5 linked regions of the Homo sapiens genome follow. The protein of the gene in region 4 purifies or fractionates together with the protein of the main gene of each other region. This does not show direct contact. Each region holds a gene or a part of one and is shown on either strand. Other genes may lie near its edges. The genes, in order: KIF13B, QRICH2, DHX36, PANK2 and RASGRF2.

The links.
Region 1: the proteins of PANK2 (region 4) and KIF13B purify together in Homo sapiens (affinity purification with mass spectrometry, with the first as the bait; one large-scale study listed by BioGRID). This does not show direct contact.
Region 2: the proteins of PANK2 (region 4) and QRICH2 purify together in Homo sapiens (affinity purification with mass spectrometry; one large-scale study listed by BioGRID and IntAct). This does not show direct contact.
Region 3: the proteins of PANK2 (region 4) and DHX36 purify together in Homo sapiens (affinity purification with mass spectrometry; one large-scale study listed by BioGRID and IntAct). This does not show direct contact.
Region 5: the proteins of PANK2 (region 4) and RASGRF2 purify together in Homo sapiens (affinity purification with mass spectrometry; one large-scale study listed by BioGRID and IntAct). This does not show direct contact.

What each region holds. Positions count from the first base shown.
Region 1 is NC_000008.11:29,139,108-29,145,788, reverse strand, and holds part of KIF13B (kinesin-like protein KIF13B), read left to right. Parts: intron 1-3,485; coding exon 3,486-3,632; intron 3,633-5,171; coding exon 5,172-5,321; intron 5,322-5,597; coding exon 5,598-5,726; intron 5,727-6,681. UniProt on the Homo sapiens protein: Involved in reorganization of the cortical cytoskeleton. Regulates axon formation by promoting the formation of extra axons. May be functionally important for the intracellular trafficking of MAGUKs and associated protein complexes.
Region 2 is NC_000017.11:76,293,454-76,300,134, forward strand, and holds part of QRICH2 (glutamine-rich protein 2), read right to left. Parts: intron 1,970-6,681; exon of another isoform or gene 569-1,969; coding exon 1-568. UniProt on the Homo sapiens protein: Has an essential role in the formation of sperm flagella and flagellar structure maintainance. It acts as a suppressor of ubiquitination and degradation of proteins involved in flagellar development and motility.
Region 3 is NC_000003.12:154,279,488-154,282,987, forward strand, and holds part of DHX36 (ATP-dependent DNA/RNA helicase DHX36), read right to left. Parts: intron 1,376-3,500; coding exon 1,276-1,375; intron 1,183-1,275; coding exon 1,092-1,182; intron 1-1,091.
Region 4 is NC_000020.11:3,886,819-3,894,104, reverse strand, and holds the start of PANK2 (pantothenate kinase 2, mitochondrial isoform 7 precursor), read right to left. Parts: upstream 4,675-7,286; coding exon 4,377-4,674; intron 4,290-4,376; exon of another isoform or gene 4,173-4,289; intron 2,862-4,172; exon of another isoform or gene 2,694-2,861; intron 1-2,693.
Region 5 is NC_000005.10:81,224,292-81,230,972, forward strand, and holds the end of RASGRF2 (ras-specific guanine nucleotide-releasing factor 2), read left to right. Parts: intron 1-1,386; coding exon 1,387-1,479; 3' UTR 1,480-5,871; downstream 5,872-6,681.

The sequences.
Region 1 (6,681 bases), on a different chromosome or scaffold from region 4:
CTTGATCACATTCATACATAATTTTTGATGGATTAGGTAGAATTTTCTATTCAGATGAATTTTTTGTGGATCCGTGTGTTCTGTTTAGCCTGCGGTAGTCAACACAGCAAAACTTTAATCAATCCATCTTGGATATTCTATTTTTCTTTTTTTTGTTTGAGAGGGAGTCTTACTCTGTCACCCAGGCTGGAATGCAGTGGTGTGATCCTGGGTCACTGCAGCATCTGCCTCCTGGGTTCAAGCGATTCTCCTGCCTCAGCCTCCTCAGTATCTGGGATTACAGGTGTGTGCCACCACGCTGGACTAATTTTTGTATTTTTAGTAGAGATGGGGTTTTGCTGTGTTGGCCAGGCTGGTCTCAAACTCCTGACCTCAAGTGATCCACCTGCTTTGGCCTCCCAAAGTGCTGGGATTACAGGCGGATATTATTCTAATTTGATAGCAAGGATTACATCTTTCCCTATGACATCATAGCATCAAGGTCAGCGTTTTGTACAGGGTTAGATATTTGGCAAATATGATTCTTAGTATTTTGAGAAAGGTATTGTAAATATGATATGATCGTTACTTTACAGATCATTGTTTTTGTATACTCTGTGTGTATTTTGAAAATTTTTACTTAATTAGAACACTAGTATTTGTAGGGCAAAGTCTGGGTACAGTAGGACTCACCAAAAACCGAAGAGGAAGGCCAGTCACAAGGAGAAGGTTCAGGGCCTAGTTTCTCCTTGAAGGCTGAGAAGTACAAGATCCTCTTTGATTTTATAGTGTATAAGTTGAAAAAAGCAGAAACCTGAAAGATTTTTCCCCAGTAAGCATGACCGCAGCCCTTTTCTCCGTAACCTCTTTTGGGCTTTGTTGAAAGGTGTGGCTCTGCACTGGGGCAGCCATGTCAACGCCTGGAAGAACTCATGTCGCCTGGCATCTCTCCTTAGTTAGGCTGACTCTGTAGTCTTTCGTGCAACAGACTATTTTTTGGTATTTGAAAAGTTGTTTAAAGTCCTGTCCATTCTGTGAACTCTTCTCTGGTGAATTTTTTTCTTATTTCCAGTTTTGCAAGAGGGCTAAGTTATGGTAGCTGCACCATATTGCCCGTTGCTATTATAGTCCCAGGTCCAGCATTCTCCCCCAGGAAAGCCACTACCCACACAGGTCACAAATGGGATTTTTGTATTTATTCACTGGCTGGCTGAATATAAGGTAGGAGGGCCTTTAATTTTGACTGTAAGATGGCCGGGCATGGTGGCTCATGCCTGTAATCCCAGCACTTTGGGAGGACAAGGTGGGCGGATCACCTGAGGTCAGGAGTTCGAGACCAGCCTGGCCAATATGATGAAACCCCATCTCTATTAAAAATACAAAAATCAGCCAGGCGTGGTGGCAGGCGCCTGTAATCCCAGCTGCTTGGGGGGCTGAGGCAGGAGAATCACTTGAACCCAGGCGGAGGTTGCAGTGAGCCGAGATTGGGCCACTGCACCCCAGCCTGGGCGACAGAAAGAGACTCTGTCTCAATTAAAAAAAAACACACACACGCATTTTGACCGTAAGAATTCTCAAATGTTTGTTTTATTATTTAAATTTTTTTCTTAGAAAATGATTGTAGGCAAGATGTTAATGAAACATCAATGTATTTCAAAGTTCTCTTCAGTTTTAAGTAGAACATTTGAAAAATTAAGCCAGTAAACCTAAATTGATTAGATAACCAGTAGATATGTCTCCCTCGGGGAAATGTATAGGGGCTTTTTTTTTTTTAACTTTGTGGTTTTTTAAAAGTTCTAAAATTTTTTCTACATTAAAAACACATTGCTCAAGTTCTACTCTGAAAAAAATCCACATTGCTCTTATAAGCTGGAAAAACTTCAGAGCATACTTTTTTTGGGGGGGAGGTGTGATACTTGCATAATAGAACATTACTTTTTTTTAATTTTATTATTATTATTTTTTTTGAGACAGAGTCTTGCTTTGTTGCCCAGGCTGGAGTGCAGTGGCGCGATCTCGGCTCACTGCAACCTCCTCTTGGGTTCAAGCGATTCTTCTGCCTCAGCCTCCTGAATAGCTGGGACTACAGGCGCCCACCACCATGCCTGGCTAATTTTTGTATTTTTAGTAGAGACGGGGTTTCACCATATTGGCCAGGCTGGTCTCAAACTCCTGACCTTGTGATCTGCCTGCCTTGGCCTCCCAAAGTGCTGGGATTACAGGCGTGAGCCACCACACCTGGCCAAACATTACTATTTTAAAGTGAATAACTCAGTGGCATTTGGCACGGTAATAATGTGGTGTGAGCACCGCTTCCATCTAGTTCTGTATGATCTTAATAAGAAACCCAAACAATGCATATTTGGAAACTGGTATCATTAATTGCTTCCACGTGGGTGAATCGGGGACTTTTCAGTTTACTCTTTTAAGTGTTTCATGTTTTATACCCCCTGAAGATGCCATCCATTACAATAAAACAAAATTCAGCCTCTGAGAGGGACGTTTCTTCCCCATACACCGCAGCAAACTTTCCCTCTCTCCCCATTGATAACGTTGTGGTCATATGGTGGCCTGAATAAAATACTTTTATTTCAACTTGCTGTTAAATGTGGTCTTTTGGGTTTTAAACTTAAAATCATTTCCAACTACAGTCAAAATTTAAATGTGGTGGCTCATGCCTATAATCCCTGTGCTTTGGGAGGCTGAAGCAGGGGGATCACTTGAGGCCAGGAGTTCCAAACCAGCCTTGGCCATATAGCAAGACCCTGTCTCTATGCAAAACAGACAAAATTAGCTGGGTGTATTGGCATGCACCTGTGGTCCTAACTACTTGGGAGGCTGAGGCAGGAGTATCACTGGAGCCCAGGAGTTCGAGGCTGCAGTGAGCTATGACGTGCCACTGCACTCCAGCCTGGGTGACAGAGTGAGATGCTGTCTCTTTACACACACACACATGTATATATTTATTTATTTTTGAGAGTCTCATACTGTCACCTAGGCTGGAGTGCAGTGGCAAGACTTCAGCTCACTGCAACCTCTGCCTCCTGGGTTCAAGCAATTCTTGTGCTTCAGCCTCCCAAGTAGCTGGCATTACAGGCACGTGCCACCACACCCGGCTAATTTTTGTATTTTTAGTAGAGAGGGGTTTCACCATGTTGGCCAGGCTGGTCTTGAACTCCTGACCTCAAGTTATCCACCTGCCTTGGCCTCCCAAAGTGCTGGGATTACAGGCGTGAACCACCATGCCCAGCAACTCCCCCCAAAAAATTTTTAATGTAAGTTTATACTTAAAGTGAAGTTTATAAATAGGTTTTGATTGCACTTGGGTAGGAAGGTATTATGTTATAGCTTGTAAGACTTTTTGGAGGCTTTGTAATCAACAGATTAAAGGATGATTGCCATTTGAGTTTTGGTGTAATGACATTTGACTGATGGGGGTGGAATTGTCAGCTTTGACTTCCCCGCTGCCTGTGTGTTTCTCACGGTCATTCTTACTCTCTTTGCAGCGAGGCTCTCTTCTTAGTGAGCCTGCAATCCAGGTGAGAAGAAAAGGAAAAGGAAAGCAGATTTGGTCTTTGGAAAAACTGGACAACAGGCTGTTGGATATGAGAGACCTTTATCAGGAGTGGAAAGAGTGTGAAGAAGATAACCCAGTAAGTTATTTAAGAGAAAATCACTTAATTGGTAATTATGGAAGGAGCCAAGCTGGAATGAGTCTACCCATTTCAGGGGAAAATTGTTCTTTTTCCAAAATTATAATCCTATTTCTGGAGTAAGGTTTATTTTAATCCCCTAAATTGTTTAGCAAATTAACAATTTTAATAATCTCTCTTTCTGGTATCTTCTTTTTTCTTCTCATTTCTGTCTTTTAGATTTCTAGCAGAATTCTCCACTTTCCATTCTGACTTCTGTTGGTGTGCGGGTGTCTGTCTCCTGTGCTCTCTGGGAACCTCTTTAGGACAGAGGCCAGGCCTCATTATTTGTCTCTCCTCCCATTGCTCAACCCGTTTAACCTTGCAGATAATAAACCTACAATATATGTTTTGTAAGTTGAACATCGGTGGTATCTTAATATTTACACTCCAAGGAGCATTTTTGAAGAAGTTTTGATCATAACATAAATGCCATAAATCTATACATTGGTACTCTGTCCTTAACTTGCAGGTTTTCTTACTTAGATCAGCCATGTACTCATACGTATTTAAAATAGAAGTGCATATTATGTATGTCTGAACATATTTTCATTACCGTTAGACCTGTTTCCGCATAGAGTTGTTTACTTCCTTTGCCTTTTGTTTTGTAAAAATGATTTTTCCAGATTGTTATCAATAAAAATGTTTCTTATAGTTAGGTGATGTTTTTGCTTAAAACATGTTTGTCTCTTTGGTACCCCTCTCCTATTTCAACTTAGAAATAAAACAACAGTAATAAATAATGAAAGAGCCACTCCCATAGGGGCTCACCTTTTTTTTTTTTTAGATGGAGTCTTGCTCTGTCATCCAGGCTGGAGTGCAGTGGCACGATCTTGGCTCACTGCCTCCTCTGCCTCCTGGGTTCAAGTGATTTTCCTGCCTCAGCCTCCCGAGTAGCTGGGATTACAGGCGCCCACCACCACACCTGGCTAATTTTTGTATTTTTATTAGAGACGGGATTTCACCATGTTGGGCAGGCTGGTCTCAAACTCTTGACCTCAGGTGACCCGCCTGCCTTGGCCTCCCAAAGTGCTGGGATTATAGGTGTGAGGGCTCACCTTTTATTAGCAGCAGTTTTATCTGATGACTTGCTAGGAATAAGCAGAGCAGATAAGAATTACTGTCTTTCCCAAAAGAAAGGTGAAGTGTAGTTTAGCACACTCTACTTCTTTTTCTGGTCAACATATATTGTTTATTTTGTGGCAAAATTTCCATGTAAAGGAGAATAGCTGATAAAAGTAATGACCTGTTACTGGGATCGCTCTGTCATGGGTGGAGGATGCTCACCTCCATTGTGAATGGGAATGAGGAAGAGTGTGTATGGGAGTAATACAGCGCTGTGCTTTAGCAAAAACTTTAGAATGTTTTACTCTAAAAAATACAAGAGTTAGGATGATGAAAGTTAAGTTTAATAACCTAGAGTGCATCAAAAAGCAGTAGGTTGAATGCATTTATTGTAAATGGTTTTTCTGAAGTTGTGTGTTCTCAATCTCTTTACAGGTAATACGATCATACTTCAAACGTGCTGATCCATTCTATGATGAGCAGGAAAATCACAGTCTCATTGGGGTGGCCAATGTCTTCCTCGAGTCACTTTTCTATGATGTGAAGTTACAATACGCTGTTCCCATCATCAACCAGAAAGGAGAGGTTGGTTTTCTCTTCATGCCTTGTTTCCTGTAGAGAATAGTTTAAGAAACAAGAGGGTGGTGATGGGATATTGTTGCTATTTTTTGTCAGTAACGTGTCTTATTAATACCTTGTGTTTCCAAGGACTCTTAGGGTAGAGTAACTGTCAGAGACTAGGCCTCTAAATTCCCATACACCATTAACCTGACAACTTGACTGTAAAAGAGAAGAGAGGTCATCTCAAGGGAGCACGAACCAAATCTGGAGAAATGTTTCTGCCTTCCCTCATTGCTGCAGGTGGCAGGTCGGCTGCACGTGGAGGTGATGCGACTCAGTGGTGATGTTGGGGAGAGGATCGCAGGAGGCGATGAGGTGGCAGAGGTCTCCTTTGAGAAGGAGACCCAGGAGAACAAACTGGTGTGCATGGTAAGTCCCAGCTTCATCCTAGTATTACGTTGATACAAAAGTCATTGCAGTTTTTGCCATTACTTTTAATGGCAAAAATCACAATTACTTTTGCACCAACCTAATAGCTGATTTTGAGAACTGCAGGTCTTTAGATGGTAAGTATTATGTTCCTTTTCAAATTTTGGAAGTAGAGCAGAGCCTCCCCCACTCATGATAATGCAAAATCGCCTCCTCCATTTCCAAACACCCGCTAGTGAGCCAGACCTGCTGGTGGCTGAGAATCCCTGCAGGAACAGTTCTTATAAAAAGAAGGTGCTGGGGGACAGGAAGTCAGCGAGGGGCGCAGGTGCAATGTACAAGTGAGAAGGAGGTGAGGTGAAGCGAAGAAGGCCTAAACCTGACTCTTAATTCATAGCTCATCCTAGAACCAGTCCTCTTTCCCAGTAAACATCTCTAGAATTGAAGCTGATGTTGAAGGGAGTAAGTTACGTGTCAGCCACAAGGTAGCGGGAAGCTGGAGCTGTTGGAGTTGGGCTGCTTTCTGTAAGACTTCGCGTATATTGAGAGGGCTTCTGGTGTTTCAGTTACTTCACTAGGAAGGGGGAGGAATCTTAATTCACTGAAGGGTTCATTTTTATTATATTGTACTTGATTTCAGAGCAGCTCCTTTGAGTCATGTGATGATCGGAGATGGAGACATAGGGTTGATGACCCCACAATGGCCCATTTTAAAGGTGATGGACTAGTAAATGCAACTCTCAAATATCACCTTCTACTATTAAAGTAAAATAACATACAAGGGCACTTCTCACTTGGGAAATTTATCCTTATTACTGAAAAAAAGTAGTACATTCTAAGTCATATGGGCTTCCTAAAATGAGGTTAAAATACCATGTTTTTTAATGGAAGATCTCAAATATACATAAATAAAAGTAGTGAGAAATGTGTTACGAATCCCCATTCACCTTCGCTC
Region 2 (6,681 bases), on a different chromosome or scaffold from region 4:
GTGGTGGCACACCAAGCTGACCCATGCTGAGGGGTACCACACCATGTGGGTAAGTGCTAGCAGGCACTAATCCAGGCTGATTCATGCCAGTTGGTTCTAACCCACGACGATCTGGCCTTAGATGGACCTGACTCTGGCTAGCGGGCACACTACTGGGCTGGTCTCTGGCCAAGGGTAAGTCCTGTTGAACTGGACCAGGACGTGCATTTCTTCTTGGTTGTGTCGAGGTAAGCTTCTCTCTACTCCTGTGACGATCTGAGTCTGATTTGAATTGGAATGTAGAAGACTGATGGAGTCGTGGCACGCCAGCTTCATCACGGGCCCTCGGCTGCTGCTGTCTCCCAGTACCAGAGGGGACCTTGCTTTGTTCCCTACTGGAAACCCCATCAGAGGGGTGTGCTGTGCCACCAGATCCTGATGCAGTCCGATCCGGGCCAAGACCACTGGCAGAATCCAGAGCCTGCTCAATACTTGGTTGCTTGGTAGAGTCTCCGCTTAGAGTCCCTTCAGGTGATGTTAAGGAAGTGAACCCTCCGTGCTTAGAAAATCCCATAAGTGTTTCTGAGCCCTGGTTGGAGAGGAAGAAGGAAATCAATAACAGTCAAAATATTCACTATCAGAGTGGGAAGAAAGGAAATCTGGAAGTTCTGACTAGGATGATTTAGGGCCCCTGGAGAAAAAAGCCCTCTGGTCCTAAAAGCTAAGCTTGACATAAAGAAACACACTGATGGGAGGCCGAGGCGGGTGGATTACTTGAGATCAGGAGTTCGAGACCAGCCTGACCAATATGGTGAAACCCTATCTCTACTAAAAATACAAAATTAGCCAGGCGTGGTGGCATGTGTCTGTAATCTCAGCTACTCAGGAAGCTGAGGCAGGAGAATTGCTTGAACCTGGGAGATGGAGGTTGCCGTGAGATTGTGCCATTGTGCTCCAGCCTGGGTGACAAGAGTGAAACTCCATCTCAAAAAAAAGAAAAGGAAAAGAAACACACTGACGTTCTGGGAGGCTAGGTCTCCATATTTTTGAGACTCTGCATATTTGAAAATGGCATGTACAAAAATATGTAATTTTTGTGGCCAGGTGCGGTGGCTTATGCTTATAGTCCCAGCACTTTGGGAGGCCAAGGCGGGTGGATCATTTGAGGTCAGGACTTTGAGACCTGCCTGGCCAACATGGCAAAACCCCATCTCTACTGAAAATACAAAAATTAGCTGGGTGTGATAGTGCATGCCTGTAATCCCAGCTACTCAGGAGACTGAGGCAGGAGAATCGCTTGAACCCGGGAGGTGGAGGTTGCAGTGAGCCGAGATTGCACCATTGCACTCCAGCCTGGGTGACAGAGTGAGACTCCTTCTCAAAAAAAAAAAAAAAAGTGTAATTTTTCTTCATAAAAGATGGGGAAAACTGCAAAATACAAGTGATCTCTCTGGACTTTTGCTTAGCCTTTAAATAAAGGACATAAGTAATTTATTAAGTTTAAAATATAAAGTCTGGGTCTGGCACGGTGGCTCATGCCTGTAATCCCAGCACTTTGGGAGGCCGAGGTGGGCAGATCACAAGGTCAAGAGATTGAGACCATCCTGGCCAACATGATGAAACCCCGTCTCTACTAAAAACAAATAAATAAATAAATAAATAAATAAATAAATAAAATTAGCTGGGTGTGGTGGCACGTGCCTGTCGTCCCAGCTACTTGGGAGGACAAGTCATGAGAATCGCCTGAACCCAGGAGGCAGAGGTTACAGTGAGCTGAGATCGCACCACTGCACTTCAGCCTGGGTGACAGAGCAAGACTCCATCTCAAAAAATAAATAAATAAAATAAAATAAAATATAAAGTTTGCTCCATTGTTGACCCATTGCTGCTGATAAAAGTGTATACTGGAATGCATGTAAACCATATATTTAAAATGTATAGGCTGGGCACAGTGGCTCACGCCTGTCATCCCAGCATTTTGGGAGACCAAGGCAGGTGGATCATTTGAGGTCAGGAGTTCAAGACCAGCTTGGCCAACATGGTGAAACCTGGTCTCTACTAAAAATATAAAATATTAGCCAGGTGTGGTACTGCACACCTGTAATCCCAGCTACTCAGGAGAATCACTTGAACCCAAAAGGCAGAGGATGCAGTGAGCCGAGATCACGCCACTGCACTCCAGCCTGTGCAACAGAGCGAGACACCATCTCAAAAAGAAATAAATAAATAAAATGTAAACATGCAAACCCATGGACCCAGAAACTCCATAGACAGGAATTTTCTCTATGAATCCTCACCAAAGGATGCCAAGCTATACATACAATGATGGGGTCTGCAGCATCTTGATAAAATAGATCATCAATAAGGGACTGAGATATTTCTGGTCACCAATACAGTAGATGCTATGAATCCATGAAAAAGAAGAATGAACCACTGCCATTTCCAGCCAAGATGAAGTTAACAGGGGCTGGATTTACCCTCCTGTCTGTGACAAGAAAAAACAAAACTGAGGCTGGGCGCAGTGGCTCACGCCTGTAATCCCAGCACTTTGGGAGTCCGATGTGGGTGGATCATGAGGTCAGGAGTTCAAGACCAGCCTGACCAACATGGTGAAACCCCGTCTCTACTAAAAATACAAAAACTAGCTGGGTGTGGTGGCACATGCCTGTAATCCCAGCTACTTAGGAGGCTGAGGCAGGAGAATTGCTTGAACCCAGAAGTCGGAGGTTGCAGTGAGCCGAGATAGCACCATTGCACTCCAGCCTGGGAGACAGAGTGAGACTCTATCTCAAAAAAACAAACAAACCCAACAACAGCTATGAAACGGTGGTTTCCTACATACTGGATATCAAGTTATGAAGGACAATAATCCCCAAGCGGTGGAGAAAGGAAAACTGGGAAGCCTGTATCACCCTGGCTTGCTGCCTTGCTGGAGTTTCCAGACTGCAGTGCAGGGAGGGGGAATTGAGGTGGAGTCTGGCAGACTCTCTGAGTTGAGGAGACAGAAGTGAGCATTCAGGGAGATTCAGGCAACTGAAGGTCACAGGATAGAGTATCAGAAAGAAGGGAGTTATCCAGGCGTGGTGGCTCATGCCTGTAATCCCAGAACTTTCAGTGGGTGGATTACCCGAGGTTAGCAGTTTGAGACCAGCCTGGCCAACAAGGCGAAACCCCATCTCTACTAAAAATACAAAAGTTAGCCAGGCACAGTGGCACATGCTTGTAGTCGCAGCTACTTGGGAGGCTGAGGCAGGAGAATCACTTGAACCCAGGAGGCGGAGGTTGCAGTGAGCTGAGATCACACCACTGCACTCCGGCCTGGGCAACAGAGCATGGCTCTGTCTCAAAAAAAAAAAAAAAAAAAAATAACCAGAAAGAAGGGAGATGACAGAAAGCCCACTCCCACTCCAGAGGTCTGTGGAGGATCCCCTCCGAGTGATGAGCACGCATTTGATGAGTACATGCATGTGGGGAGACGTCCCAAGATTGGGGAAAGAACCACCTGCAGGGCTTGAAGAAGCAGTGCCCTGCCTGCCATGGGGCTGGAAATGGTGCCTGTTCTTATCAACCAGTTTGGAAAAACTCATCATTCAAGTAGCACAGAGCAGAGTGTACTCAGAAAAGTGTTGCCTCAGAAATGGAGAATAATCAGCCCTAGACTGAACACACCTATGGACCCACCTAACAAATCATAAAATCATAAAAGCAAGGCCTGAAGCAATCAAACTGTTTTTAAGTAGCTGTGTCCTGGGGGAAACAGGCTCAATAAAATGTATAAGAATACAAAAATATGGCCGGGTGTGGTGTCCCACACCGGTAATCCCAACACTTTGGGAGGCCAACGCGGGAGGATCACCTGAGTGCAGGAGTTCGGAACCAGCCTGGCCAACATGGTGAAACCCCGTCTCTACTAAAAATACAAAAATTAGCCAGGCATGGTGGCACACACCTGTAATCCCAGCTACTCAGGAGGCTGAGGCAGGAGAATCGCTTGAACCCAGGAGGCGGAGATTGCAGTGAGCAGAGATTGTGCCACTGCACTCCGGCCTGGGCGACACAGCAAGACTCCATCTCAAAAGAAAAAAAAAATACAAAAATATGTACCATCCAATGCAGGAAAAGTCACAATGGCTGGCACCTGATCAAAGATTGCCAGGCATACAAAGAGGCAGGAAGACATGACCCATAATGAGGAGATAACTCAACCAACTGAGACCAACTCAACACTGGCATATGTGTTAGAATTAGCAGAGATGGATATTAAAACAGTTATTATGGCTACACACACACAAGCACACACTTTAGAGACAGGGTCTCACTCTGTCACTCAGTCTGGAGTGCAGTGGCATGATCACAGCTCACTGCAACCTTTAACTCCTGGGCTCAAGCAATCTTCCCCCTTCAGCCTCCCAAGTAGCTAGGACTACTTAGGAATCTGTTTTTTTTTTTTTTTTTTTTTTTTTTGAGACAGAGTCTTGCTGTGTCACCCAGGCTGGAGTGCAGTGGCACAATCTCAGCTCACTGAAACCTCCGCCTCCAAGTTTCCAGTGCCTCAGCCTCCTGAGTAGATGGGATCACAGGCACGCACCACCATGCCCGGCTAATTTTTTGAATTTTTCAGTAAAGATGGGGTTTCACCATGTAGGCCAGGCTGGTCTTGAACTCCTGACTTCAGGTGATCCATCCACCTCAGCCTCCCAAAGTGCTGGGATTACAGGCATGAGCCACGCTGCCTGGCTTTCTGGCTAATTTTTTTTTTTTTTTTTTTTGAGACGGAGTCTCACTCTGTCACCCAGGCTGGAGTGCAGTGGTGCAATGTCGGCTCACTGCAAGCTCCACCTCCCGGCGCCATTCTCCTGCCTCAGCCTCCCGAGTAGCTGGGACTACAGGCGCCCACCACCACGCCCGGATAATTTTTTTGTATTTTTAGTAGAGACGGGGTTTCACCGTGTTAGCCAGGATGGTCTTGATCTCCTGACCTGGTGATCCGCCCGCCTCAGCCTCCCAAAGTGCTGGGATTACAGGCATGAGCCACTGCCCCCGGCCACGTGACCTTTTAAAAACTTTTTGTAGAGACGGGGTCTTAATATGTTGCCTAGGCTGGTCTCAAACTCCTGGCCTCAAGCACTTCTCCCGCCTTGACTTTAAGTACTGGAATTAAAGGCGTGAGCAACCATGTCTGACCTCTTTGTCTTTTTTTTAAGACAGAGTCTCGCTCTGTCGCCCAGGCTGGAGTTCAGTGGCGCGATCTCGGCTCACTGCAACCTCTGCCTCCCGGGTTCAAGCGATTCTCCTGCCTCGGCCTCCCGAGTAGCTGGGATTACAGGCGCATGCCACCACGCCCGGCTAATTTTTATATTTTTAGTAGAGATGGGGCTTCACCATATTGGTCAGGCTGGTCTCAAATTCCCGACCTCAAGTGATCCGTCTGCCTCGGCTTCCCAAAGTGCTGGAATTATAGGTGTGAGCCACAGCGCCCGGCCCTGAGTGTAGTTTTTATTTGCTTTTGTAGCTTTTCAAACTTTCTTTACAGTCTGTCCTGAAATGCAGGGATCTTTCCTTATTAGTGGGCCATGGTGACAGACCCTGGAAATAAAACTTCTGTAGGGGGCCCTCTGCTGATGGCAACTTTTGCACACAGGCATGCATCTGTCTGTCTTGAGACAGTGTACAGATGACCAAATTGTTTTCCGATCGCCAACCTACCTTCACCTGAATAAAATCAAGCTGAATATGTTCAAATGGCCCTCAAAGATGAGGCTTAACTTCCCTTTTGGTCTTGACATCCCTCCCGCTGGCTTTGGGCTAGTGGGTTATCAAAACAAGCAAGCCAACTTTGAGGGCCATTTGAAAATGTAGACGGAAGCAGGGTGAAGAGTAAAGCTTTTGGCGCCACCAAGTGGCCATCTTGGGGAGCGCCAAATATCTGGGTACAAAAGACAACCTGGGATCTCCAGGACCATTTTCTGATTTCAGGGCTCATTCTCAGAGGAAAGCGGCATCAGAAAGATGTTGCAAGAGGGGCCGGGCGCGGTGGCTCCAGCCTGTAATCCTAGCACTTTGGGAAGCCGAGGCGGGCGGATCACCTGAGGTCAGAAGTTCGAGCCCAGCCTGGACAACATGGTGAAACCCTGTCCCTAGTAAAAATACAAAAATTAGCTGGGCGTGATGGTGGGCGCCTGTAATCTCAGCTACTCGGGAGACTGAGGCAGGAGAATCATTTGAACCCAGGAGGTGAACGTTGCAGTGAGCCAAGATTGCGCCACTGCACTCCAGCATGGGCGACAAAGCAAGACTGTCTCAAAAAACAAAACTAAACGATATTGCAAGAGGACCCTGAACACAAAAGGAATGGACTAGAAAAAAGTGGCCTCCACTTTCACTTTTTTAAAGCCAAACCTTTTTTTTTTTTGAGACGGAGTTTCGCTCTTGTTGCCCAGGCTGGAGTGCAGTGATGCGATCTCGGCTCACTGCAACCTCCGCCTTCCGGTGGTTTCAAGCGAGTCTCCTGCCTCAGCCTCCCGAATAGCTGGGACTACAGGCACACACCACCACGCCCAGCTAACTTTTTGTATTTTTAGTAGAGACGGGGTTTCACCATGTTGGTCAGGATGGTCTCGATCTCTTGACCTTGTGATCTGCCTGCCTCGGCCTCCCAAAGTGCTGGAATTACAGGCGTGAGCCACCGCACCTGGCCAAGCC
Region 3 (3,500 bases), on a different chromosome or scaffold from region 4:
CAAGTATTATTTTGAAAAAGTACTTAGGTCACTTAAAATGTGAATAATCCAACCACAATGATTAAAATTCATCAGCTACCCATTACTTTATACCTTGGAATAGGGTTTCTTGACTTTAGTACTACTGACACACTGTTATGACAACCACAAGTATCTCCAGACACTTTCCAATGTCCCCTTTGGGGGCAAAATCATGCCAGTTGAGAACCACTGCCCAAGAACAATGTCTGCACTTTGGCCTATCTTTAAAGTCTTTATTTTTTCATGTTTATAATTCTAGAATATCCAACTTTCATTTAACATCAGTTTAAATACTTTACATGTTACTACACAATGACTGTTTTAATGCCCACCTATGGAGATGCATTACAGTATTATAAAACCACAATTTTCCCATGGCTACTAGAAATCTATATTATTTACAATATAGCTGTTAGAAAACATTTGAAATTACTTCCTTAAGACACATCTATCAAATTAAAAACTCATGCACTGGGTCACTGACTATTTTAATGATTCAATCATAATTCTAATACAGAGTGTCTTCCAAAATAGCAGCAACCACACTACTGGCCATTTGTGACTCTTAGTTTCTCTGTATCCTTTAGCTAGAATGAGCTCATTCTAGCTCATGCTTCACTGTTGTCTCCAATTACTACTGAGGCTACCTGTAAATATATTATTACACTTTATTTCTCAAAATAGTGAAATCACAATGTTATTCAAAGAGCTAAGTTATCCATTTATAAGGCAAGAGGAAAAAAGTTTCTGAAATAAAATCTACTCTAAGCAATTTTTATCCAGCCACTGGTATTTACTAGCAGGCTGGCTCTTCTAATATTTACACTGGTATCATGTGGTAGCATTCTTTGTGAATAATGGGTTATCAAAGAGGTGATTCCAGGATGTGTTGTGAGGGAAAGTGATACCAATGGCTAAACAGTTCACCTTCTCTGAAATGATTAAAAGAACAAGAATATAACCCACATATGAATAAGAACAAATTTATAATATAAGCCTTGTTACATGAGCAGATTTCAAAAGTTTAAGAAGAGAATTACGAGTAATTAATAATAATCTTCAATGCTTACATTTTTCTTTTTTTACCCAAATTTAGTCGAATTTTAGCAACTTTGGGATATAAACCAGCACAGATGACAGCTTTAATTATCTTCTCATTATCTATGGGGGGTGAGAAGGTAGAGGGGAAAAGAAAAGTAAAATACTGATACAATAGACAAAAGATACTTATTTACACTGTGTTTCCTGCTGTACCTGAATTTATATTAGATTCTGGATCTTTAGGATTTCTACTGCTTACAAATCCAGCTCCAAGAAGATGCTCAGCAAACTGTCCTTTCATGTTATGCAGCATCTAGGGAGCAATGGTAACAAATAGAACTAGAATACCTTTCACACATTGAGGCTATAAACCATACACTAATAGATAAATTGAGTTGTAAGCTATCCCTGCTTTATGAAAACACTTTAGCAAACATGTTTTAAAGCAAGGGTTGGCAAACTACAAAAGCTGTTTTTGTCAATAACATTTTATTGGAACACAGCCACACCCATTCATCTACATTTGGTTGTTTTTGCACTACAATGGCAGAGGTCAATGCTTGTAACTGAGATCTTATGGCCTGTAAGCCTAAAATATTACCCGACTTTTCACAGAAAAAGTTTGCATGTTGTAAGGAATAGCCACTGATGTTTAAGGATTACTCTATTTTGTGAAAGACTAATAGAATTTTTAAAATTACTTTCCACCCCCATTTTTTAAAAAATATAGAAAAGCATAAAGAAAATAATCCACATCCATATTTCTATTACTGAGAATTAAATATGGTTAAAAATGGCAGGTAAGCTTAAGGTTTTGTTTTTTTTTTAAATAATGATACATGGCTTATTACAAAGCATTCAAGTAACATAGAAAAGTACTTCCCTTGCCTCAATACTCAGTCTTCTAAATAAATAAGATTGCAGACACCCATTAAGTATATATACTGATAGAAGAAATGCATCCTAATAACAGAATCATAGTATAGAAATTCTTTATAAAACAATTAACTTTAGTACAATTTAAAGAAAAGTTAAATAGAAAGGAAAGTGAATGACCAGATGAATCTTGTATTTTCATAACAGAAATATTTCCTAAGGAATTCCTTTTAGAGATTATGAAACATAAAGTTGGTTATATTTAAGTATATATCCCTTTTATGAAAGGTGTGACTTTCCCCACCTAATTTTTCTGACACCTGACTTTCTTAGACACCTCCTGGTTTTTACTGCCATTATTTTATACTGTTCAGGATAATAATCTTTACATTCTATTTTGCATGTGTAATTCCTAACACCATTTTGTTATTAGCTCTATATTTAAATACTTCTAATGTATATACACCAGCTGATTAAGCATGCACTCTCCATTCCTGAAATCTCCACTGTGATTCCCCTTTTAACTAACAGCATTTCACCGTCAATGGGCTTTTCAAGAAGAGCTCAGGGGTACAGTATTTCTTGAATGCCTGTTGTTTTTCTTTACACCTGAATTCATATCCTGACTGGACATGACATTCTCAAACACTTGGATTCAGTTATGTTTTCATGCTTCTGTTCACTTCTCTGTTCATTTCATTATTTCCATTTCAAAACGTGTTCTTACATACATCTCAAAATAAACGTTCAATTACACAGGATTTGTATGCAGACACTAATGTCTACTGTTCTCATAATGGATGAGTCCTGTCTTCCTGTCTTTAAGATTTTACTTATTGCTTTAATTTTTGTCTTTTTCAGGTACCTCCATAAACTGTGATTACTTCAAGCTTTTTTCCTATGGCAATAACTTGTTTTTAAGGGGTGTCCATTCTGTTCCTTGTGATTTCTTTTGATCTTCAATTTGTTTTCTTAGCTCAGGTGTCTTTTCATTCACTCTACTGTTTATTTTCTAACCTATGTTTTGCTGAATTCATATTCTTATTAGCTATTCCATATTATGAAACAGTTTAAAGGTGTTTTCTACTGAAACATGGCATTCCACTCTTTTTTTTTTCTTTTCCTTTCCTTCCGAATTGTGGTGATCCTTTTTTTCCATTTTGCTAATGACTGGGCACTTCTGATTTGGTATGTTAGATTTTTTTGTTTACTAATTTGTAGATCTGTTAAATGTCCAGTATCAGGCCTCATGTCACATAGCTGGAGTGTATGTGTACTGGGAGAAGATGAGGATATTTCTATTCTCACTGGCTTCGAATACCCAGTTCAGTGTAGTCTGAAATGTGATGGCATATGCCCTCTTTACTGTTTTCTTCTGTTTTACAAATGCTTGCCTGTGGTGTTTCACTATACTAAACCAGAAAACTTACAGATATCTATCCTATTTGATACTTTTCAACAGATTTTAGTAGTGTTAGCAAAAATTCTCAGTTTGAATCATCAAAATAGCAACTAGAATGTGGGGACAGGAACAGAAATCGAACCCTACTGTGCCTTGCTCT
Region 4 (7,286 bases):
AAAAAATTAGTTGGCCATGGTGGTACATGCCTGTAATCCCAGCTACTTGCGAGTCTGAGGCAGGAGAATTGCTTGAACCCAGGAAGCAGAGGTTGCAGTGAGCCAAGATTGCACCACTGCACTCTGGCCTGGGCAACAAGAGTGAAACTCCTCTAAAAAAAAAAAAAAAAAAACAAAAAACAAACAAAAAAAAAACTCCCATCTTGCCTCTCCCAATGGGCCACAAAGCTATAGCAATCTAACATTTTTCCTCAGCTCCCAGGGGTCAATCCGTCCTAATTCCCTGAAGCTGAAATGCTGAGCCTAATAAAGGCAGCCTAACAGGGCCCCGGCTCCAGTTCCATACTGCCAACAGCAACGCTCCTCGGAAAGCCAAGAAAAAATGATCCATTTTCTAGGCTAGTGTTGTCAAGCTACAAACAAAAACTGTATTATGAAGGTTAGATTTGTAGGAGTCCAAAATCAACAAGCCCCAAAGGTCTCCCTGGCATGCTACAACATGCCTTGCGAGTCATCTTCAAAGGATAAGTTTGTTGTCCACACTACTGTGGAGCACTCTGATCACAGGGCTTCCACACCTTCTGCACACCTGCTGCACATATGCTCAACACCTGGAGCCCTTGATAAAAATGTATGTTCTCTTGTTACATGAGTGTCTACATTTGCCAAAATTGTACATTTTACTCTATTTAATTATGCCTCAATAAAATTTAAAATATAATTTTAGACCCCTTTGCAGACCTATATCATGCAATGGTAGGTTGAGGGAAAGTTTTAAAAACTTGAGAACCACAGCTCTGGATTACATCACACATACCTTCCCCCACCCCAAAATGTGGACCAAGAACACTGGATCTGAAGTCAAGACACCAGGAATCAAAACCCAACTCCATCACTAACTCACTATATGGCCTTGGACAAAAGGACAATTTCACTGAGCCTGTTTTCTCATCTGGAAATTGGGGATAAAAAACACCTACCTCACAGGATAGCTATGAGACTTAACCAAGATGCTTATAAAATACTCGGCATAGTGTCCAAGACAAATAAGCACTCAGAAAATGGTAGCTACATTACCATCATTAGCGTCTTGGTTTCCATCATTTTAAAATCAATCTTTATTTGGTATTTCTTTCAGCCCTGCGAGACATACCCCCCTCCCCACCTGATGCAAAACTTTTGAAGAACTTAAATATACACATGCCTAGCCTCATCGCTAGGGATTCTGATGCAGTAAGTCTGGGACAAGGGCCGGTTTGGGAACTACACTGCTCTAGGAAACGCGTGACAGAACACGACTACAACCAGGACCACAAGAATGCCTAAGATAACCTGAATAGCTCCTTCGACTTTCAAATGACAACTAGTATCTATCTGCACCTTTAGACAAGTAGTGCGGTATCAGAGTAAGGCTTTTTTTTTTTTTTTTTTGAGACAGAGTCGCTCTGTCGCCCAGGCTGGAGTGCAGTGGCGCGATCTTCGATCACTGCAACCTCTGCCTCCCGGGTTCAAGCAATTATCTGCCTCAGCCTCCCGAGTAGCTGCGACTACGGGCACGCGTCACCACACCCGGCTAATTTTTTTGTATTTTTAGTAGAGATAGGGTTTCACCAGAAAGGTGGCACCATTCCATACCCAAACCTCCCAACAATAAATAAAAAAGATTTAGTCTTAGTTGAATTCTCTCAGAGATAAGACTGAAGTATACTCTAGGAGGGTTCGGCAGTCAACAAGCTGCTTCTCCTTTTTTTTTGTTTTTTTTTTGAGGAGTCTCACTGTATCATACAGGCTGCAGTGCACTGGCACAATTTCGGCTCACTGCAACCTCCACCTCCCAGGTTCAAATGTTTCTCCCACCTCAGCCTCCTGAGTAGCTGGGATTACAGGCATGCACCACCACGCCCAGCTAATTTTTGTATTTTTTAGTAGAGACGGGGTTTCAACATGCTGGCCAGGCTGGTCTCTGGTCTCGAACTCCTGACCTCAGGTGATCCACCCGCCTTGGCCTCCCAAAGTGCTGGGATTACAGGCATGAGCCACTGCGCCCAGCCTGCTTCTCCACCTAACAGGGGCACCCCTAGATAGTACAGAAGAAACAAATGGAAGGAAGAACAATCAGTATCCTGTTCATTCCTTTAGCAGGTCTTATACTGGAAAGATGGGTTTTCATGATTTATCAGCCAGAGAAGATAATGAAGGGAATCACGACAAACATCAAACATCAAAACAAAATATAAATCCTATAGCATGAATATGTGTCTACTTAGTTCCCTAAAATAAGTTTCAAAACTACCTTAATATAATTCTCCCCACCCAGTGTAAACCGGTTTTTCTGAGTGTGGTCTTTGAGTCACCTGTATTTGAATATGAGGAGCTTAACTGGGCCCACTGAATCTGCACTTTTACCAGGTCATTCTCATGCTCAATATTTGGAAGTACTTCCACAGTATCTAAAAATTTTCGCCTCAAGTAAGTCAGTCTTGAACACAAAAGATCAAACTTATGCTTGGTCTTAGAGCAATGAAGAAATAACTAACAGAACGTAAATAATTCAGAAAAACACAGTGGTCCACCGCAAAAGCTATGAAGCTAGCAATTCTGAGTTTACATTTCTATTTCACAACGCACTAGCCATTTGACCGGGCAAACGTGTCCCAGTTTTCTCATCTGTAAAATGGAATACTACCACCTACCTCAGAGCCACGAGGCTAATGAGTTACCAAAGCTCTTAGTAGACGACTGCCAGGTCGGGCACAATGGCTCCCGTCTATATCCCAGCACTTTGGGAGGCCGAAGTGGGAAGATCGCTTGAGACCAGGAGGAATTCAAGACCAGCCTGGGCAACATAAGAGATCCCATCTCTATTTAAAAAAATAAAAATTGAAAAATTAGCCTGGCATAGTGGCACGTGCCTTTAGTCCCAGCAATGCAGGAGGTTGAAGCAGGAGGATGGCTTGAGCCCAGGAGGTTAAGGCCACAATGAGCCATGATCATGCCACTGCACTTCAGCCTGGGCAACAGAACAAGACGCTGTCTCAAAGTAAAAAACAAAAAACAAACCAAAAAAACCCTTGTGGCTAATGGCTATACTCTTATTTGCTGAATCTTTGGAATTTACATCCATTTCCAACGATGTAATACAAAACCATGAAGGATCTCATATTTTGCATTGCTTCAAACTCAGGTGCTTCTCAAATAAAACAAAACTAGGTGACTGACTCTGAAAATGGCACAGGTTAAGAATCTGTTTTCCAAATCTGTTGCAAGAAGATGGAAAAAGACAAAAGAACTGAAAACTCCCAAACTTTTCACAGCAAAATAGAACTACATTTAATCATCCATATCAGAGAAGATTCAAAAAAGCAGTTGGGTGACTGGGCTAAGGTAGAAGACTATTCAATAAAAATCTCACATCTTGCCATTTTCCCTCCCTCTCACAATCTGCATTTAAACAAGTCAATTTCCTGAAATAGGAATCTGGCAACACCCACCAAAAAGTCCAACCATATGTAAAATGGCATCACACTGTAAAGCTCATATTACAGTATCAGGACAATTGATACTTTCAACAGCAGCAATGGCTGCCAGGCAGCGGTCCTGAATTGAAGACTTGTAAAGGGGAGAAAATACACAACACAGAAAAAGAAACCTAATAAAATGGGGAAACGGATTCTCTGGGAGGAGCGTATGCAACTCCCAAGGCAAAATTCAGAAAGATGTTGTTTCCCCTCAAAACAAAGAGCCTTAATGCCCAGAATGCCACAGTTCTGAATCGTGAGTACCTGCAAATAGACAGAAGGAAAACGGAGGGGATATGTGGGTGAGAGATGACCTGGATTCTCACGAGAAGAAGGGCAGCCACCTTAGAGGTGCACGGAATACAGTTTCAGGCCTGGTGCAACTCAAGGGGCAGTTCACCATTTTCCAGTAAGCCCGAAATTGACGAATAAAAGGGACTTAAAGTATTAGAGAGCAGCTCTTTGGAAACCCACGGAAAACAAACATTGGGGATTCAAAGGATTTGGGAGGAAAGGAGGTGGAAATGAGTCAAAAGAAGCCTTCTCGAGGATAAAATCATGTGACCCTCAGGAAGAGAATGCCCAAGGAGCTAAGAAAAGGGAGGACAGGTCCTGGGGAAAAGCCCTCCACTCCAACAAGCGGGAAGTGCATACCAATGGGTGCGGGGGGGCCCCCGAAGGTACCGCTTTCGGAGCACCCGAGGCCTCCAGCCGGATGTCAGGCCACGCACCAACGAGGGACCACCGTGCGGGGACAGTGTCCGCGCGCGGGAAAAACGGCGGCGGGGCCGGAAGGGGACAGGGTGGGCCGGAAGGGGGGGCAGGGCGGGCCGGGAGGGCGCCCCACGGAACACTTACGCGGCCGCTTTTTCCTCAGGCTTTCGACGCGCTGGCGGGAGACCGAGGTGGGGCCGCTGTAAGAGCCCAGTCGATCCCGCCTCGTGCCCTCAGCCGAGGCCCCGACCGCGGGCACCGACGCGCTGCTCGCCCGGCGCCGCAGTGGCTCCTGCCGCCGCCCTTCGGGGTCCCCGGCCGCCTGCTCCCCAGCCGACGAGACGGAGGTGGCGGAAGCCCTGCCGTGGCGCTCCATGGGCGCGCCGAGCCGGCCCCCTCCCATCCGCAGCAGCAGTCGCTGCCGCCCGAGCAAGCCCCCCAGCGTCGGATTCCTTCTCGCCTCCTCCGCGGCAGTCCAGCCAGAGCAGAGGCGCGCCCTCGGCCGGCCGCCTCTTCCGTTGCGCCAACGCGCAGGAAGCCAATCCGACGAGGCTGGGGACGGCCCAAAGGCCTCGCGTCCAGTCGGCTCCCTAACTCGAGGAGGATTGACCGTGCCTCCGTCCAATGAGAGGCTATCGTGACGGGGCGGGGAGAGGGTGGTGGAGGAGGGGATCCGGGTTCCGCGGAGGAAGAGAAGGCGGTGTAGCCCAGAAGAGAGTGATGGCGGCGCCGCCCAATGGACGCGTGGGTGGAAGGGCCCGAGCCTCCTCATCCACCCCCTCCTTCCGCCCCCCACTTGTGCATGCCTCTGCCCCCCCGGGCCGCGGAACTCTCCTGGGGCGACCCCGAGTCCCACCCCGCTGCTCCGTGCCGTCCTCGCAGCTCGAGCCCTCCTCCAGCCCAGCAGTGCTCCCGCAGCGTCTGGCCGCTGGTCGTCGGCAGACGAAAGGGCTTGAACCGCGGCTGACCTTAGCCTTTGTCCCTCGGCCTAGTTCCGCAGCTGCCGTCGAGGCCGCCAGCCCCTCCCCCAGCATGTTTGGGCTAAGCCGCCTCCTTTCCGCCTGCGTTGGAGAGAGAGGTACCAGAAGGAATGAAAGGACTGGGGCTTGTCTCCATGGCAACTGAAAGAAAGAGGTGGGTTATAAATCCTTCGCCACCCTCCTGTGGCGAAGGAGGGGAAGTGGGAGCCGGGAAGTAGAGTTGGCCTTTTGCAGGAGAGTCTGGAGCCCCTTTCTGGGTGATGCATTGGGGGCCATAGAAGGATTTGGCTGCCGCTTTGGAGCATGGATTTTTTTTTTAATCATCTTCCTTTCTCTTTTGGAGAGAAAAATTGGTCACCTCCAGGACTGAGACCCTGACCCTTCCAAGCATCCCCACTACCAAAGGCTGCCCAAGCCCGGAAGGATCCCATCCCGTTCTGTACTCTGAGGTCACTTCCTCACTCCGTCAAATTTCACTGGACTGTGGGCTAATTAAAAGTGCCTCCGTATTAGCGGGGCGTGGTGGCCCATGCCTATAATCCCAGCTACTTGGGAAGCTGAGGCAGGAAAATTGCTTGAACCCGGGTGGCGGAGGCTGCAGTGACCCAACATTGTGCAACAAGAGCGAAACTCCGTCTCAAAAAAAATAAAAAATAAAAAAGAGTGCCTCCCTGGGGAGACTGTAATGCCCACTGGGCAGTGATCCTAATGCCCCTTGGGCAGTGATCCTTATTCCCCTCTCCCATAATGATTGGTTGTAGCAGGCTGAACAAAAAGGTTGAGCTTCGCTTGTGCTTGCTGAATAGAATTCTCACGCCCACTCCACGTTAGCTCCCCTCACTGTAGGACTAGCTCTGAAAATTCTAGCTCCTGTAGGAAGCCAACACAGACGGATCTACAAGAACCAAAAACAGCTATAGCTACTCTTCTAAATCTCAGTGCCTGACATTGCCTCTCTTTCTGCCTCCTCTCTCCACCCCCCAAAAAATGTGGTCCTCCTTGACCTGAGGGAGCTTCCGTCCAAGTCTGAGCTCTGATCATCCTGAAGAATCAAAGTATCATCATCCCTTGGCTGGCAAGATGAACTCCAACATCAAAACACTTGAAACAGTAGTATTTTTACACAATTTGCCCACTGCCTCTACATCTCACTTAGTCCTTGCAGTAACATTTGGATGATGAGGTAACTTATCCAGAAGCACAAAGCCTAAAGAATGACAGAGCTTGGACTCCTGAGAAGTTCAGCTACTGCCCGCCTTATGATAACCAAAAGAAAGCGGCCGGGCGCAGTGGCTCAACTCCTGTAATCCCAGCACTTTGGGAGGCCGAGGCGTGCGAATCACAAGGTCAGGAGTCCGAGACCAGCCTGGCCAACACAGGGAAACCCCGTCTCTACTAAAAAAAACAAACACAAAAATTAGTTGGGCGTGGTGGTGGGCACCTGTAATCCCAGCTACTTGGGAGGCTGAGGCAGGAGAGTCACTTGAATCCGGTAGGCGGAGGTTGCAGTGAGCCGAGATCGTGCCACTGCACTCCAGCCTGGGAGACAGTGAGACTCCGTCTCTAAAAAAAAATGAATAAATAAATAAGAAGGCACACCACAAGTTCGAGACCACTTCTACAAAAAATAAAAAATAAAAAAAATTAGGCCAGGCACAGTGGCTCATGCCTGTAATCCAAGCACTTTGGGAGGCTGAGGCGGGCGGATCACTGGAGGTCAGGAGTTTCAGACCAGCCTGGCCCAACATGGTGAAACCCTGTCTCTACTAAAAATACAAAACTTAGCTGGGCGTAGTGGTGCGTGCCTGTAATCCCACTTACTCCAGAAGCTGAGGCAGAAGAACTGCTTGAACCTGGGATGCAGAGGTTGCAGTGAGCTGAGATTGCACCACTGCACTCCAGCCTGGGCAACAGAGTGGGACTCTGCCTCAAAAAAAAAAAAAAAAAGAAAATGAAGATGACCAAATGGGCTTCTAGATGGCTAATGATATTCTGTTTCTTTGATCTGGGTGGGGGTTACATGGGTGTGTTCCCTTTGTAATATGTTATCAAGACATTTTGTGCACTTTTTTGG
Region 5 (6,681 bases), on a different chromosome or scaffold from region 4:
ATAATATCAAACATTGCTTAGGGTATAGGAAAACAGGTACTGTCATGTACTGTAGGTGCGGAAGCTTTGCAGGTCATTTTCCATCATCATTTAAAATTAAAAATTGGTATATTGAATTACTGGAACTCTTACCATTGTTGGTGAGAATAAAATCGAACAATCACTTTGCAAAACTGTGCCATTTAGAAGTTTCTTAAAATGTTAAATGAGCACTTATCTTAGGACCTAGCAATTTCTCTCTTAGGTGTTTATCCAAAGGGAAAATGAAAGCATGCTCATTAAAAGCCTTGTATAAAATGTTCATAACATTTCTAAATAATAGCCCCTATTTGGGAAGAGCTCAAGTGTCCATCAACAGATGAATGGATAAACAAATTATGGTATATCTCTACAATGGACTACTACTCAGCCATGAGAGGGAGCAGACTACTGGTACAGGCCACAGCAAGGCTGAATCTCAAAACACTATGCTGAGTGAAAGAAACCACACATGAAGGAGTACACACTGTATGATCCCATCGATATGAGGTTCCAAAATAGACAGAACTAATATGTGGTGATAGAAACCAGGGCAGTGCTTGATTCCAAGAGCAGATTGACCGAGTAGGTGCATGAAGGAACTTTTGGGGATGCTGAAATTGTTATCATGAAATGTATGTAAGTTACATGGTGTATACATGTCAAAACAGATCAAACTATCTATTTCACTTTTGTGTGTTATATTTCAATAAAACTAAAGAAATATTTTCATGAAAATCCCCCATGCCCCAACATATTCATTTCTAGTGTCAATTCCTTTCCTTTCACTTCTGATATCTACCCTAGCCTAGCAGAGTATTCACGCATGCACTCCAGGAAGCATGCTAACAAGGAATTCACTGAAACTTTGTGTAACAGTGAAGTATTGACAGCAACTCAACATCTATCAATATGAGATTATTAAATAAGCTCCAATATATTGCACTATTAATACTGTATAGCAGTTAGAGCTCTATCTACTGTCACAGGGAGCTCTCTCCAACCTATCATTAAGAGATGAAAGCAGAATAAAATGTGCACCATGGTGCCAATTTTAGGGGGAAAAATGATTTCTGTAAGTACATGTAATCTCTATAAAGACATAGAAAAACAACTGGGAGAAAACAAACCAATTAGTAACAGTAGTTCCTCTTGAGGGAGGTACCTGGGATTGGGGGTTGAGAGAGGACTAGAGATGTTCACCTTTTTTTTTTTTTTTTTAACAATGGAAACATATTTATGATTTTTTGGTCAAATAAGATTTTTAGTTGTTTAAGAGAAAATGTTGAATTGTGTTAGATTCCGTCAGAAAATGTACGCACTGGTGTCTGAAAGAGGTAAAAGCTGGGACTTCCCCTTTTTTTTCAGGTCGCACAGTACTTGCTTGACAAAGACCTTATCATAGATGAAGATACGCTATATGAGCTGTCACTAAAAATTGAACCTCGACTCCCTGCTTGAAGATCTGGCCTTGCCCCTGAGTCCACGGGATGTTCATGGAAAGCAGGACAGACAGAATTGTGTATGCCTTGCCTATCACGGTACAGCACGAAGCCAGGCTCCTTTCTCCACCAAAGAAGATGGAACCAGACTGGAATTCTGTCTCCAGAGAGAAACCCAGCTGTTTGGGTCAAAGACAGATGCTTCAGACTTGGGTGGGAAGGTGAAAGATGGCTATTTAGAAAGCTGGTGGCACGTTTTACATAAGGGAATGTCAGATGGGAGATGCTAGTTGCCATTTTAACAAAGCAGGTAAATCGGTAAATTTTAAACTCTGTCCATGTTCTGTTAGAACTCAGGGACAAGGATCCATGAAAAAGACCTGTGATGTTTCTCTGGCGCTTTACTGGCCTGGGCACACCTACCAATCTTCTAGGATTTGACTGGTTCCATTACATTTCCTTTTGGTATAAGCTTCACAGAAAAGCTGACACTTCCTCTACAGAGATGGACCAAAACATAAGCAATTTCAGTCTACAGCATGTGCATGGTTGTCAGTGCATTCTAAATATTTCTATGTGAGGAATGGTACCTTCTGAAACTGCCTTTCCAGTCTTTAGGCAATGGGATAGGAAAGAAAGAATGAAACACAAATGGATTTGTATGTAACATTTCCTTAATTAAATGCAGTAGGCTGTGCCCCAGAGGATTCCAGACAGTGGCTGGCTGAGGTGGGTGGGGAGCTTTTCCTTGAGACTGTTGGTCCTAAGAAGCCAGCCCTTTTGGAGAGGCAGCTGCAAAAAGGTGCACGCCCATCTCACCGACAAAACTGTGGAACAGAAGGCCACCAAGTGCTGTGGGGAATCATGGGTTTCAGTGCTGAGTGAAAATCTATACCTAAAAATCATCTCTGCACCTTGCTTTGTTTGTTTTCTTTCCCCACTCATAGTACTGCAGGAATCTATTCTCATTTACACAGACCTTTTTTTAGGCTTACTATGAACATTGGCTGTATTTTTTTTAAACAGTTTAGTGAAATTTTCTTTTCAAAACCCACACTTCCATATGCTGTTCGTAGATCTCTTTCTTTAAAAACTGATGTTGAGAGATCTCTGAGAATATTATAAGTGCATGGGAAATGGGCCCAACCACCGAACAGCTCTTACATTACAAAACCAAATGCAAGGGTTAGTCCTGCTACCTGAGGCTGGGGAAGTGACCTTCCTTTTCCCAAGATTGTCAGTTGTTGAAGAAATAGGGCTATCTCATTGTTTACCTCCCTCTTCTCTTCTCAGGGAGACTGCTGCTTTAAAAGAAGGAAGAGAAAAAATATAGTTCTATTTCCCTGAACCTGTTGCACCTGACATTTTCTCTTAGCAGCATGAAACTTATTGATGCTGACAATGAAAAATGGATCTGTCTGGCTGCTTTCCCTCTTTCCTTGCACTTTAATTATGTTGCTAGAGCTAACAGACTAATAAATTCCACCTGCTGGCTCTTAAGACTCAGTGAAAGAGCTAGCATTGGTAATGCACCATAGAGGTAGAGAATGTACACTTTCTGCACGGTAAGTGCCATCTCTGTATGTAACTATATAGTGAAATATCAACTAAGTAAAAGAAAATATAATATTTGAAGACCATTCCCAAAATATTTTCAATAGTTCATATTAGCCAACAGTGTAGCACTCAACCCAAGGAGGGTTCCTTATGGATGCTTTCTTTTTCTTTTTTAAAGTTGCTTGTTTGTTCTCTTTAGTTTCAAATAAGAGGTTGACGCATCTTGATGCATGATGAGAAGCATGGGCTGTTTGGATCCTAACAACGCATAACTTGTGATTTATTTCTCAGTGCTCCAGAAACTGAGGGTTTGAAATAATATGTATCAGTTGCACCAAACACCTCAAGGTCTTGCAGAAGAAAAGTAAAGGTTAGCTTTCATGGCTCAAAAGCATAGTCCTGAAGGGTGAACTAAAACCGGGACAAATCTGTGAGAGGACCACACACATACTAGTTTCGGGCCAAACAACACGTGGAAAGGTGCATGCATTCTACTCTGCCTTGGAGTTGCCAGAGTCCTTCAGAGGGAAAGGGATGGTTCTGTGTGCACTTTTTCTGGAAGTTCGGACTCATTTCTTTGACCCAAATGTTCCAGAGACACTGCAGCCATTCTTATTAACAAAAAATAAGACAGGAGTTTCCAAATGCTCCTTCCCTTTTGGATCGCAGCTTTTCTTCAACTAGTGACAAAGCTTTTGCGCCTATTTCCTGCAGGATGTTGGAACTGCCCCGCACTGGTCATATTAGGCACTGTCAATTGCTATGCTGACTTTTAGGGGGTTTTTGTTTGTTTGAAAAACAGGGTCTCACCATGTTGCCCAGGCTGGTCTCGAACTCCTGGACTCAAGCAATCTTCCTGCCTCAGCCTCTCAAGCAGCTGGGACTGCAGGGGTGTGCCACTCACTAGCCTTTCGCATTTTTGTTTGAGAATTACACCACTTTCTGGAGTCTGCAGCCTTCCTGGAGCTGCAAGAGGGCAAGAGAGAGAGCTCCACCTCTGAGGGAGTGTCTGTTGATGACCTGCACTATTCGTGTGCCAGCTGGGAGAGGAATGCACATTTTAAAATCCCTTCAATTTGGTCAAATTAAAAATCCCCAAGAGCAATTTGCAGTGTTTTTTCTGGTCGTTAAAGTACCCATCCTCTTCTGCCTACACACAAAGCATGCATTCCCAGCTGCATCTGCCTCTAGTCCATTATGGAGACCCATTTCTAAGAGGAGATGGGAGGTCAACCTCTAACAGCCAAGTAGCGAACATGTATACTGTAAAATTAACCTAGAAAATCAGAAGAAAAATCCAATTTCATGCTTTCGAATGAATGCCCACATTTTGTACTGTCAACGAAATTATCTTGGAGCTTTTAGGGGATGCCTTTTCGTTATTAACTGAGACATCTAGTTTTGCTACAGGGACAAATCTCTTACCTAATCCAATATATTATTTGACAGATTCAGGCATGAAGTAAAACGTCGTCACTTTTCCTTAGTGCTTTTCTGAAGGAATTTAAAGACGGAATTTTAAACGGCCATTGCAATATTTTCAAGTGGCTCTCATACCAAGTCCCATTACTGTTTGTTAAATTTCAGTACGTCTTAAAGTACTACTTATAAACAAATGAAACTCAGAGAAACTGAATCACCTGGAAGAGAAAAATCCATTATGGTCCCATGTGGAGTGAATAATGATGGATCAGCACCCTTTCTCTCATGTTATTGTATAAGACGAGACTTTTGGGCCAGCAGCGATTGGGCAGCTTTTAAATTCTTAACTGAAAAGAGTAATGCAATACAGGGATTATTCCCAATAAAATTAACTTTTATTTAAAAGCAAGAGATTTTACTTAGCTTTTTTTTTTCAAAGTTTGATTTTATCCCCTTGAAAAAAAATCTCTTCACTTTAAAGTATAAAGGTTTTTAAAAATCCAATTGCAAAATGTATTATTTTTACAACTATCGAAAAGGCATAAAAGAGAACATACTATTTATGGCTGAAGGGTATAGCCAGGCTAATGTGCACAGAGGGAATCAATAAATAAAACTCTTTTTCATTTCAGTAAGAAATCAGATTGTAAGTTTAATGGCTCCATTATAGATACCACCGTGTAATAGAAGACTTAAGTCAATGAAATCTAATCAGTGTGTCATTTCTCAGCGGCCATTGGTGACTTAAAATTAAGATGAGGCAGAGCCAAAATGGAAAACAGTCATTTTGTTGTAGGTATAAACACATGAACGATTCAGAAAATTATTCATCTCAGCTGCCATGCAGCATGACATTAACATTAGGATTGATAGCACTAGTCTGATCTGCTCAAGGAAAATAATAGTTCTATTATACTTAATGATGTTGGTTTTTACACAGCTCATTTCATTTTTCACTAGAAAGCCAGTTATGAAAGAGAGCTGGCCTAGGCATCCCGGCCCTGAGTCCTAGGCCCAGTCTCCAACTGGAAAACCTTAGGCTGGTGTTTACACATCCCTGAGCCTCAGTTTCCTCATCTGCAAAACGGTGTGAATAGTAATCCCTGTGCTGCTTATCTCACAGGGCTATTGTGAGGACCAAATGGATTAGACTGTAAACTGCAAAGTGCTGTCCGCACATGAGGTCATCTGATTACTGTCCTCAGATCTCTTTTGTAGAGGATTTCAATGTATTTCTTTATCATTTGAGTGTGTGTGTGATGGACGAATATGTGTGTGAGTTTGAGAAGCATATCGTTCGTGTCCAGTTACTTTGCAAATTTGTGGACATTTGTGATTGGACAGAGGGGTTTGTGCTGTGGCCTAACACTTGCCAAGTGAGGTGTAGGTTATGCCTATATGCAAATTAAACTTCACCTTTCTTGAATATTCAGAAATCTCACTGGTTTCTTCATTTAACTCTTTTTCCCCCCATTTTTCTACATTGTCAACTTAAAACCATGAAATGTATACATTTAGAAAAAATAGAACTTAATTTCTTATAAAGGGTTACAATCTGCAGGCTGGAGCCTCTGGCCAAAGCCAAAAGCAAGCACTTCAGATAAAAAAGGGAGAGGCTGAGATTTATGCCCAACAAGATGAGCCTTACATATACATTTAGTAGGTTATAGGATAATCTTATGAATATTTATGAGAGGCCCTAATGCATGCATAGCCAGTAATCATATATGTTACATGTTACATACAACCCATGTTCACTTTGGGATGGAGACTTAAAATGTAGTAAAATTGGGCTCTATATGTCAAAAGATGGAACACAGGGCACAAAGACGCTTGGTGTGCAATCTCTGTAAACCGGCCAGAACCGGCTGTGGTCTGTGGTCAGTTATGAGGATGGAGTGCTTTGTAAGGCTGAACACTTGTCAGGGGGAAACTGCGTTGAGGGAAGGGGGGGTTCGCCACGTCAGGTTGTCTGTTGAAGTTGAGGAAGAAATCTTCCAGACATAGTTTTTCAGTAACTGGTTTTAGTTTAATTTTAGGAAAGAAAGTCTTGAGGCAGTTATCGAGGTGGGAGAGCGTTGGGTGTGACTGACCTCTTGCCTTGCCAAAGCTGTAGAATCTGGTTTTTAATGTTTCCTGGGGTCTCTTTTTACCACAATGAGTCTGTTTTGTTTTGCTTGGGGGCCTAGGGGCTTTATTTTTATTTTACATCTTCTTCATAGCAGTGAACTCCTTCAGATAT